Linked DNA regions of Homo sapiens. The protein of the gene in region 1 purifies or fractionates together with the protein of each later gene. This does not show direct contact. Each region holds a gene or a part of one and is shown in the gene's direction. Other genes may lie near its edges.

What was found.
Region 2: the proteins of NRXN2 (region 1) and LRRTM4 purify together in Homo sapiens (co-immunoprecipitation; one large-scale study listed by IntAct). This does not show direct contact.
Region 3: the proteins of NRXN2 (region 1) and CBLN4 purify together in Homo sapiens (co-immunoprecipitation; one large-scale study listed by IntAct). This does not show direct contact.

The regions. Positions count from the first base shown.
Region 1 is NC_000011.10:64,605,530-64,608,215, reverse strand, and holds the end of NRXN2 (neurexin-2-beta isoform alpha-1 precursor), read left to right. Parts: intron 1-133; coding exon 134-1,020; 3' UTR 1,021-2,042; downstream 2,043-2,686. UniProt on the Homo sapiens protein: Neuronal cell surface protein that may be involved in cell recognition and cell adhesion.
Region 2 is NC_000002.12:76,749,377-76,753,038, reverse strand, and holds part of LRRTM4 (leucine-rich repeat transmembrane neuronal protein 4 isoform a precursor), read left to right. Parts: intron 1-3,662. UniProt on the Homo sapiens protein: May play a role in the development and maintenance of the vertebrate nervous system. Exhibits strong synaptogenic activity, restricted to excitatory presynaptic differentiation.
Region 3 is NC_000020.11:55,999,533-56,002,525, reverse strand, and holds part of CBLN4 (cerebellin-4 precursor), read left to right. Parts: intron 1-1,678; coding exon 1,679-1,795; intron 1,796-2,993. UniProt on the Homo sapiens protein: Acts as a synaptic organizer in specific subsets of neurons in the brain. Essential for the formation and maintenance of inhibitory GABAergic synapses.

The DNA.
Region 1 (2,686 bases):
CCGCTCTAGTCTCCGCCAAAGCCAATTGGAACCGATTTGGGTGTGTGAGGCTGTTGTTTCTCTCTCTGTGCCGGCCGCCTGCGCCCTGGCCCTCGCTGACGCCCTCTCTTTTCTCTTCTCTCTCTTGTTCTAGGAGGAGAGTTAATATTGCCCATTATCACGGAGGACTCCTTAGACCCCCCTCCCGTGGCCACCCGATCCCCCTTCGTGCCCCCGCCCCCTACCTTCTACCCCTTCCTCACGGGAGTGGGCGCCACCCAAGACACGCTGCCCCCGCCCGCCGCGCGCCGCCCGCCCTCTGGGGGCCCGTGCCAGGCCGAGCGGGACGACAGCGACTGCGAGGAGCCCATCGAGGCCTCGGGCTTCGCCTCCGGGGAGGTCTTTGACTCCAGCCTCCCCCCCACGGACGACGAGGACTTTTACACCACCTTTCCCCTGGTCACGGACCGCACCACCCTCCTGTCACCCCGCAAACCCGCTCCCCGGCCCAACCTCAGGACAGATGGGGCCACGGGCGCCCCTGGGGTGCTGTTTGCCCCCTCCGCCCCGGCCCCCAACCTGCCGGCGGGCAAAATGAACCACCGAGACCCGCTTCAGCCCTTGCTGGAGAACCCGCCCTTGGGGCCCGGGGCCCCCACGTCCTTTGAGCCGCGGAGGCCCCCTCCCCTGCGCCCCGGCGTGACCTCAGCCCCCGGCTTCCCCCATCTGCCCACAGCCAACCCCACAGGGCCTGGGGAGCGGGGCCCGCCGGGCGCAGTGGAGGTGATCCGGGAGTCCAGCAGCACCACGGGCATGGTGGTGGGCATTGTGGCGGCGGCGGCGCTCTGCATCCTCATCCTCCTCTACGCCATGTATAAGTACCGCAATCGTGATGAGGGCTCCTACCAGGTGGACCAGAGCCGAAACTACATCAGTAACTCGGCCCAGAGCAATGGGGCGGTGGTGAAAGAGAAGGCCCCGGCTGCCCCCAAGACGCCCAGCAAGGCCAAGAAGAACAAAGACAAGGAGTATTATGTCTGAGCCCCCGGCACTGCGCCCCACTGCCAGCTGCCCCTCCTGGGAGGGCCCGGGAGGAGGGTGCCACCCTCTCCCTGCCAGGGGCCTGGGGACCCTCTCCCTGGCTGCCTCAGGCTTCTCTTACGAAGAGGAAACGCAAAAAAAGAAAAGGAAAAACCCCGTGCTCGCCCCCTTCCTCCTGCCGTCCACTGCGCGGCCTCGTCAGTCCCGGGGCTGACTGTCCCTCTCAGCTCTGCGCCTGCCAGGCAGGGCACGTGCTCACAGCCCTGGGTTGATTTATTTTTTTAAGGGGGTAGTTTTATTTTGGTGGGGTTGGGTGGGAAGGAAGGCTGGGGGTTTTGTAAAGTGTCCACTGCTCGTCCTGTTAATTTTCCTCAATTTTTCTTCTTCTTCCTTCTGTCCCTCCTGCCTTCCTTCTCTTCCCAAGCCCTCCAATCCCCATCCCAGGCTTGCTGTGTCTCACTGTCCCCACCCTCCTTCCCTACTTCTTTTTTTGTGTGTCTGGTTTCTCCCTTCCTTTCCTCCCTTTGGGTTTCCAGAGTCGGTGGGAGAAGGGCGGGAGGGTGGGCCCGAGTGGCCCAGTGGGTGGGTGGGGTGGGGTGGGGCAAGTGCCCCAACTCCCCTCACCAGGAGAGGCACCTGCTTGGTGCCGCCCAGGGAAGGGGCTCAGGCCTGACGGAAGGCCTGTTCTGTGTGTGCCGCCGGGCGACGTGCATTGATGGGGAAGCTGCTGGAGGAGCAGGGGTGGGGGGTGGGAGGGAGGGGAAAGGCAAATGCAGATATATATTACAGACAAATACTCTAGATTCCACGAGCAGCAGCCTGTGGCACCCGCTGGGCGCGGGCAGCAGGGAAGAGGGAGCAAGGCATTGTCCACAGACTGCTGGGGTCACTTCTTTGCCCACGGGCTCCCTGCTCCCCCAGTTTTTTTTCTCTCTTTGTTAACAAATGTGTCTGAGTCTTGGAAAACACCCCAACCCCGGAAATGTGTGGGAAAAAGAAAACAAAAACTTTCCAAATTCCAACGGTCCTGTGCAGTTTTTTTGGGGGTGGGTGCTGTTAGATCCTGGCTTTTGGCTGGGGTCTGGGCCCACATGGGGGCCCACAAGAGCTGGTAAGTTGCTCCCGAACTTTTGGGTTGAGTGTGGCTTTGGGTTCCTGGGATAACTTGTCTTTGTCTCACAGTGTCCTGTATCCCTGCTGGGCTGAGGAACGGGCGGGAAACATGGCTGGTCTCTGGCCGGTTCACAGACCTTAGCTTCTCAGAAAGGCAGACAGATCCCTGGAGACCTTGTGTTGCCCCCTGATGGCTACTGGATCCACACCTCGGGGCATGTGTGCCCGGGCACAGACCTGGGTGCGGGACAGATGCTGCCTCATCCTTCAGCAGCCCTTGGAGGGAGGAGGTCATTCCTGGGCTTGGAGACCTTCAGTGGCTGCTCCCAGGTCTCGAGGTGAATGAGTGACTGAGTCCCAGTGGTCTCCTGCTCTGCCTGACTCTAGAGTCTGTGCTCCTTCCCCTTCCTCTCTAGGGATTTGGACCCTGGTACCCTACCTTCCCCCAAGTCCACTCTGCTTGACTGGGCAGCTGCTGGGACTGAAGGTGGAACCAGGGCCAGCCACCTCGTCCACCGTTGTTTACTCCTCTGTGGAGACCCTAACAGGTCCA
Region 2 (3,662 bases), on another chromosome or scaffold:
AGAATATATTTCTCTATGTGATTTTTAAATTCTGTGCTCCACATCCATTATCTGTAAATAAAGTGCAGCTTCCAATGCAGTCAATGAGCAGTCAAGTGTTCTAACGAGGACATCTTTAAATAGTGTTGTTCTGCTGTGCTATAGAGTGGAGCTCATCAGAGAGCTGATGGAACACAGAACCATTTGGAGAGGCTCTGAGAACACATTTACAAAAATACCAAATCTGAATTAAGCAAAACTTAAGAATACTTTGTTTTGACTACTGGAAAGGAAACAATGACACACACAGGGACCCAGGTGGTTAATGTACTGTACACTATTACTGTAAAGTACAAGACCTCAGCCTCTGAGCTCCTCAGAAACCACGAATTCAGTTGATTACATAGTGCCCTATAGAATACACTTGAAGAGTAAAAGAGCAAATATTTCAGATACTCTTTCAAAGCTTGCCAATGCACTTGGCTTTTGAATTCTTGCTATTGGTCTGCTGTGCAGGAGGGAACTTTACAATGGTTTTTACTCTCCAAGAGGTTTTAAGCCTGCCTCAATTACAATAGAGAAAATGACATGAGCCCTCTTTTAAGTGCTGTAAAAAAATAAACTGCAATTGTAATAGCAAAACAAATTTTCTCAGTTCAGAAATGGTGTAATATGTAAACGTAAAGCTTTGCAGTTAATGCAGGTCCCTTGACTTTTAAGTCAACTTAATTCAAAGACAAATACCATGATTTCTTAGCTATGAAATTGTTATCTCCCACTATAGTTTAAATTAAAAGGCTTTAAGTAAACATTGCAAATTCAACAATGTTCACTTATGAGCTACTTATTTTCATCTGTAGATTCACCTGGTTGTGCAAAAAGATCCCTAAGGCCCTGATTTCATCTCACATTCACTGTTCTATACATGTTTGTGAATTCAAGTATCTCTTCTTTGTGAAGACCATTGACAGAGCTACAAGACGGTGAACAAAACCACAACCCATGTTTAATGTTCATGTTGATGTCTTTTAGTAATTTGGCTAATTTGTAGAAAATTAGTCATGTATTTAAGTTAAAGTGTAGAATAAATGTTCTATAATCAGTGAATGTTGTTTCCATTTGGAAATAATTTGCTGAATTTTTATGTGATTTTCAAATTATGTTACTTCACCAGTTAACAAGAGAGTACGAATGGGCTGTATTACTCTTAGGAAATCCCTTTTGAAAGCATTCTTCCCACTGAAATGTCAGCACAAAGTGTCTTCTTACATTTCGATGCTTTCTTGGAGTATAAGTGACCCATGGCACCAATCCCACATATCTCCAGGAATCTGACACCCTGAAAAATCCTATGAGGTTTCCTAAAATAGGTCCCGCTGGCAAACATTTTACGTCTGAACCTGTACTGATTGAAAGAGGTCTCATTGAATAAGATATAATAAAAACAAAACAAAACAATAGACTTGGGGTGAGGGAGATTAGAGCTAACTTTTATTTAGTATCTAGTAATTCGGCCATGTCACTTTACAGTCTGTTCCTAGCTCTCTCTGTCAGCACAGAAATTAAGGTCCAATTTTTAAAATATCACTATCAATCACAACTCTGACCTAGTATGTATTTTTTGCAATTCTCCTTTTTACAGAATAGAATGGCATATTCAAGATTTTATCAATAGCTTGTTTGATGAGAAATACTCTTGTTACTATTTTGTAAAAGACTTCCTGAAAATAGTTTTTACCTTCCTTTAGAGGTAAAACAACAACAAATCAGAAACAAAGCATTACATATTGATTTAATTTTCCAACTCATTGTGAAAAACAGTGAATTATACAAGTTAATAGAAGTGAATAGTAAAAACAGAATGGGAATTTATCTAGGCTATTGCCAGTCACTGTAAAATAAATTGTAATCTGAATATGTGCTTTGATCAAGTATTTTTTCAAAAACATGGTCTACCATGATTCCCAATTTTCAAACTTCAAAATGTGTCCCAGTACACACATTGATATGCACATACATAAATTTAAAACAAAACTCTTATGAACAACTTATCTTTATACTCTGATACTTTCTATTCTAGCTAATTTAATTTTTTAAATGCTTATTTGGATTCACAAAATTGATTTCATAACCTACTAATGAGTTGCATTTGCGCATAGAAAACATTGCTTTAATCTAAGACTTAAAAACTGTGAGGAGGTGACTTTCCCCTTAATAAGCAGAGAGGTGTTAAAAACATAATTCTCATAAGAATAGAGAGGGAATTTGTGTCAACGTTGTATTAATCACATTAATAAAAATACCAGCAAGAAAATACTAGAGCTAGTTTTAAGAGCATTTGAGGAACTTGCATAGTAAACAGACGAATGACATCTAAAAATAAGTTTGCTGAATTATATTTAAGACTGGTTAACTCCCTGCAGTATAGGGAGCCATAAGACCTCTGGTGGTTAACTCTAGTAAATTATAAAATCAAAACAACTTAATTTCTGCACTTTTAGATACAGAAGGATTCAAACATAGTCCAGTCGGGAGACTGACAAAATATCAGTTATTTTAAGAAAGAAATTTTAGAAAGAATGCTAACTGGATATAGAGTTATTAACCAAGTTTATGCAAAGGCTAAGATATTGCTGTGGTATCACAGAAACAGCAATGTTAGGAAGTAGCTACCACCCCTACAACTTACAGGGCTGAGGGAACGAAAGGAAGATCATTAAGACTTAAAAGCTTGGAGGAGAAGCTTTGTGGTGATGAACCTCAAATCTCTCTGGTGCTAGTGCTGGTGTCTCTGAGGAGGGCTTGATGAGATCAAATGTTGGATATACTGCAAATGTTGGAAATACTACAAAGAGGCAGCACCTGCTGCTGTGGGAATAAATTGATATAGCCAGAATGAAGACATGCCATTAGGATAAATTCCTGGAGGAGGAAGAAACAAAACAGGAAACCAACAATGGGAGCAATTCCCTCTCCCTGCCAAGTCTTGCCATCTCCCTCCATTGGCAAAGCCTAACAGGAAACCACAAATAAAACAGATATGTGGTTTGCAAAGTCCAAACCTCAGCATCCTAAAAGCAACCACAGAAGGGAACTTAGAGCTGAGAGTCAATAGTTTAAAACCTGCCACAACATCTAACCTTACAGGGCAATGGAGCCTTTGCACTTTTCTCATCTGTGGATTGTTCATCAAGAGTGTCAAATTGTAACTCGCAAGTATGAGAAATATTCTAGCATGAGAACAACAAGTAAGCAAGTATCATTTGCTTTTTCCTAAATTTGGAATATATTTATCTTTATCAGAAATTTATGGCTTAATTAAAAGCTCCACCAAAATTCAAAATTATTATAACTGATATTTTCTGCTTTTTATATTAAATGAATTTCTGCAGACCATTATTCAGGTCTGTTACGCTAACATTAGACACATATTTGGCTTGTTACCTTGAAAACCAATAATAACATTACATATTATGAACATAAAGATGTGCCTTCTCCCATGATTCCAGAGTTCTTTGGTCCAGTATTGATATGTGATAGAGTGTTAGAATTAATCTATAGGAAATTGTGATTATTTTTTAAAACTAAATAAAAGTTACACATGATGATAGTAAAGATTTCAATTGTGTATAGGTATCAAATAAAAAGTTACATATATGTTTATATATATAAATAAAAGTGTA
Region 3 (2,993 bases), on another chromosome or scaffold:
TTGTTCTTCTTTTCAGTGAGCCTTGCATCTTAGAGACAAGAACACACATTTGGTTATAAATCTCGATGTACCTGGATGCTCCAATTACAGTGTAGAGTCAACATCCAGTTTTATATGTAGCCAACACTAATCAGCTATTTTCATTATTGCTAATGAATTATGCTACTTGTATCTGAATCAGGAAGTCACCACTAAGCACCTCAAATTATTTTAATTGTGCTTGAAAAATTTCTTTGTAAAGCCTCTGCTGGGGATTATTGCACAGCTGGTGACTTGTTGAAAGACCATCTATCATCAGGTTACAAAAAAAATCTGATGCTTACTTGGAAGAAGGCGAAATCTCAGAATGAAATTATACACGTACATGTGTTTTAAGTTAGGTGTTGAGCCTGATACATCTGCTTGACTGTCACTACATTCTGGTATGTTGCCCAGAGGTAATAGTACATTTTTAGGGAATTATGCAAGAGGCTTGCAAGTGTGTTAATATTGGCAAGAATGCAGTGTTCGAAAGAGATAGTAGCAGATTGCCATTGATATATGAGAAGTATATCTTTTTAGGGACCTCTTATTATTTTTGAATGCCACTTACAGGTGTATTTCTTGGAAAGAAATGGAACAAACCCTGGTTATTTTAACATCCATCCTCCATCCCAATCCCTCTTTCTCATAGAAAGAGACTTACCCATGTGACATTGCAAATTTAGCTTAAGAGGTCACTTATTAAAATTTAGAGTTAATTTTATAACCAATAGAACTAGGCTGAATATTTTGGAATACAAAATGCATTGTTGCTTTCTTGGGAAACAGTATCTAATTTCACTTTTGAACCTTGAACTTCAAATAAAGAGCAGGTGATTGATAGGAGGTTAATGGACAGCCCGGGGAGGAACAGGGAAAGCCACCTATTTCATAGTTTAGCCTTCTCTATGCTCTCCTCTTTGGCAGCCCACAAGGGCTGACTCATTGCCACATTATTATAATTAAGGCCTAGCTGGCACAGGAATGAAAAAAAAAATGGTAACAGATCTTAGGAGAGGGGTGGTGGTGGCTCAGAGAAGGGCCAGGCATTCAGATCACTTTGTGCACCAACTGTTCAGTGTCAAGGATTATGTCACATGGTGGAGGGGGTACCCATGCCTCTGTGGTTTGTCCAGGGATGCTGCGGAGAGCTCACAGATGCTGATTGGCTGGCTTGGAAACGTCACCTCTGGACATTGCAAAGGCTTGTAGAAGGTGGGAATGTAAACACATAGCGGGTGCCTTTTATCCAACTCTCAAGGTAAAGCTAATATTTATAAGTTCTCAAATGTTAGCTCGATGTTTCCAGAGCCATTGGGCCTTGCTGGAAATTGAGACATGAATACAAAGCAGTTACTTTATTTATTCTTATATCATTTAAAAGACAGAAGAACCTTCCAGTATTCCAGTCAATTTTCCAAATCAGTTAAGAGGAAAGATACAGAACTAGATGTTTTATTTTCTATGATTTCTTAAGCTAGTTGCCAAGAATGAATGAATGAACAAAAGAAAAAAGAAAAGAAAGAAAGAGGAAGGAAGGAATGAAGGAAGGAGGGAAAGAAGGAAGAGGAGAGGAAGAGAGTGAGAGGAAGAAAATTCATTTTAGTTACAGAAGAAAATATAATAACTTATTGTTATTTATTATTTTTATTTGTAGATCCTGGTGAATGTGGGTAATTTTTTCACATTGGAGTCTGTCTTTGTAGCACCAAGAAAAGGAATTTACAGTTTCAGTTTTCACGTGATTAAAGTCTACCAGAGCCAAACTATCCAGGTGTGTGTTTTGACCTCTTCCATCCATACTCTCAACCAACTGTGCTTATCTTTAGTGGGTTATATATTTAAGTACTTATCCAAAGTTGTGTTTCCACAATAGAAATAAGCAGCCATCTTTATCATTTATTTTAAAACACTTAATTTCTAATTTTTTTCTCTTTAACATCCATTAAGACGTGACAAAAAGCGTATAGAAAAATAGAGAATTGAAGTTATTACCTTAATAACAATCAAACATTTTTTAAAAATCCATGGTTGAGTAAAAATTCAGTGACACAAATCTCTTTGTAAGATCATGCTTTCATTTAATGCATGTACAAGAATTACTTGAACTCATAAGAAAAAAACTTGTAAGACTAGTACAGCTTTACAAGTGCATACTAAATAAATAAAACACATTTGCTATTTTTTAAAATTATGAGATACAGCTAATCAGTAAGAATAAGTCTATGAAGGAGGAACTATTCAAAATACATTTTTAAAAAACGGTGTTCTATGCGTATGCTTGTGTTTATCCTCAGTTACTCTGATGCTAGTGAATTCTTACCAACTGCAGTTCCACAGTTAATATATTTTGTGTTCTGCTTTCTAAGACAATGGGCTTGACCTTACATTCAAAAGCAACAGTGGAGCTTGTTCCAACAATATTCCAGTATGCTAATACTAAATGACACAAATACATGTGCATGGAATTCTAAGATAACCTTTTATCTTATGCTCAGTATTTATGTTATACATTATGTCAATATGAATGATAGATTACATGCTTATCTATTAATACTTTTACATGTCCTAGTAAATGGATAAATGGATCAGCCTCAGATTTAATTTATTCCATATGACTTTTAACCTAAAAAAATCTAGAAAACAAACTTACTTCCATGGAAAAGTTTTCCCAACCCCCAATATTTAGAAATGTATGCAATGCTTGACACAGTGTAATCAAAATTGAAGAATAGAAAATAGTTAATACAGTTTTGAGTTGATTCTAATTATCTGTCACTGAAATCTCTAAAATTTAAAATCTAAATCTAAAATCACTAAAATCACTAAAATCAGTGATAGTGGTGATTATTATTTTTTATTTTTTGGTTTTTCTCTGAGATAGGGTCTCACTCTTTCACCCAGGCTGGAATGCAGTGGCATAACCATAGCTCACTTCAGCCTCAAACCCCTGAGTTCAAGCAATCCTCCTG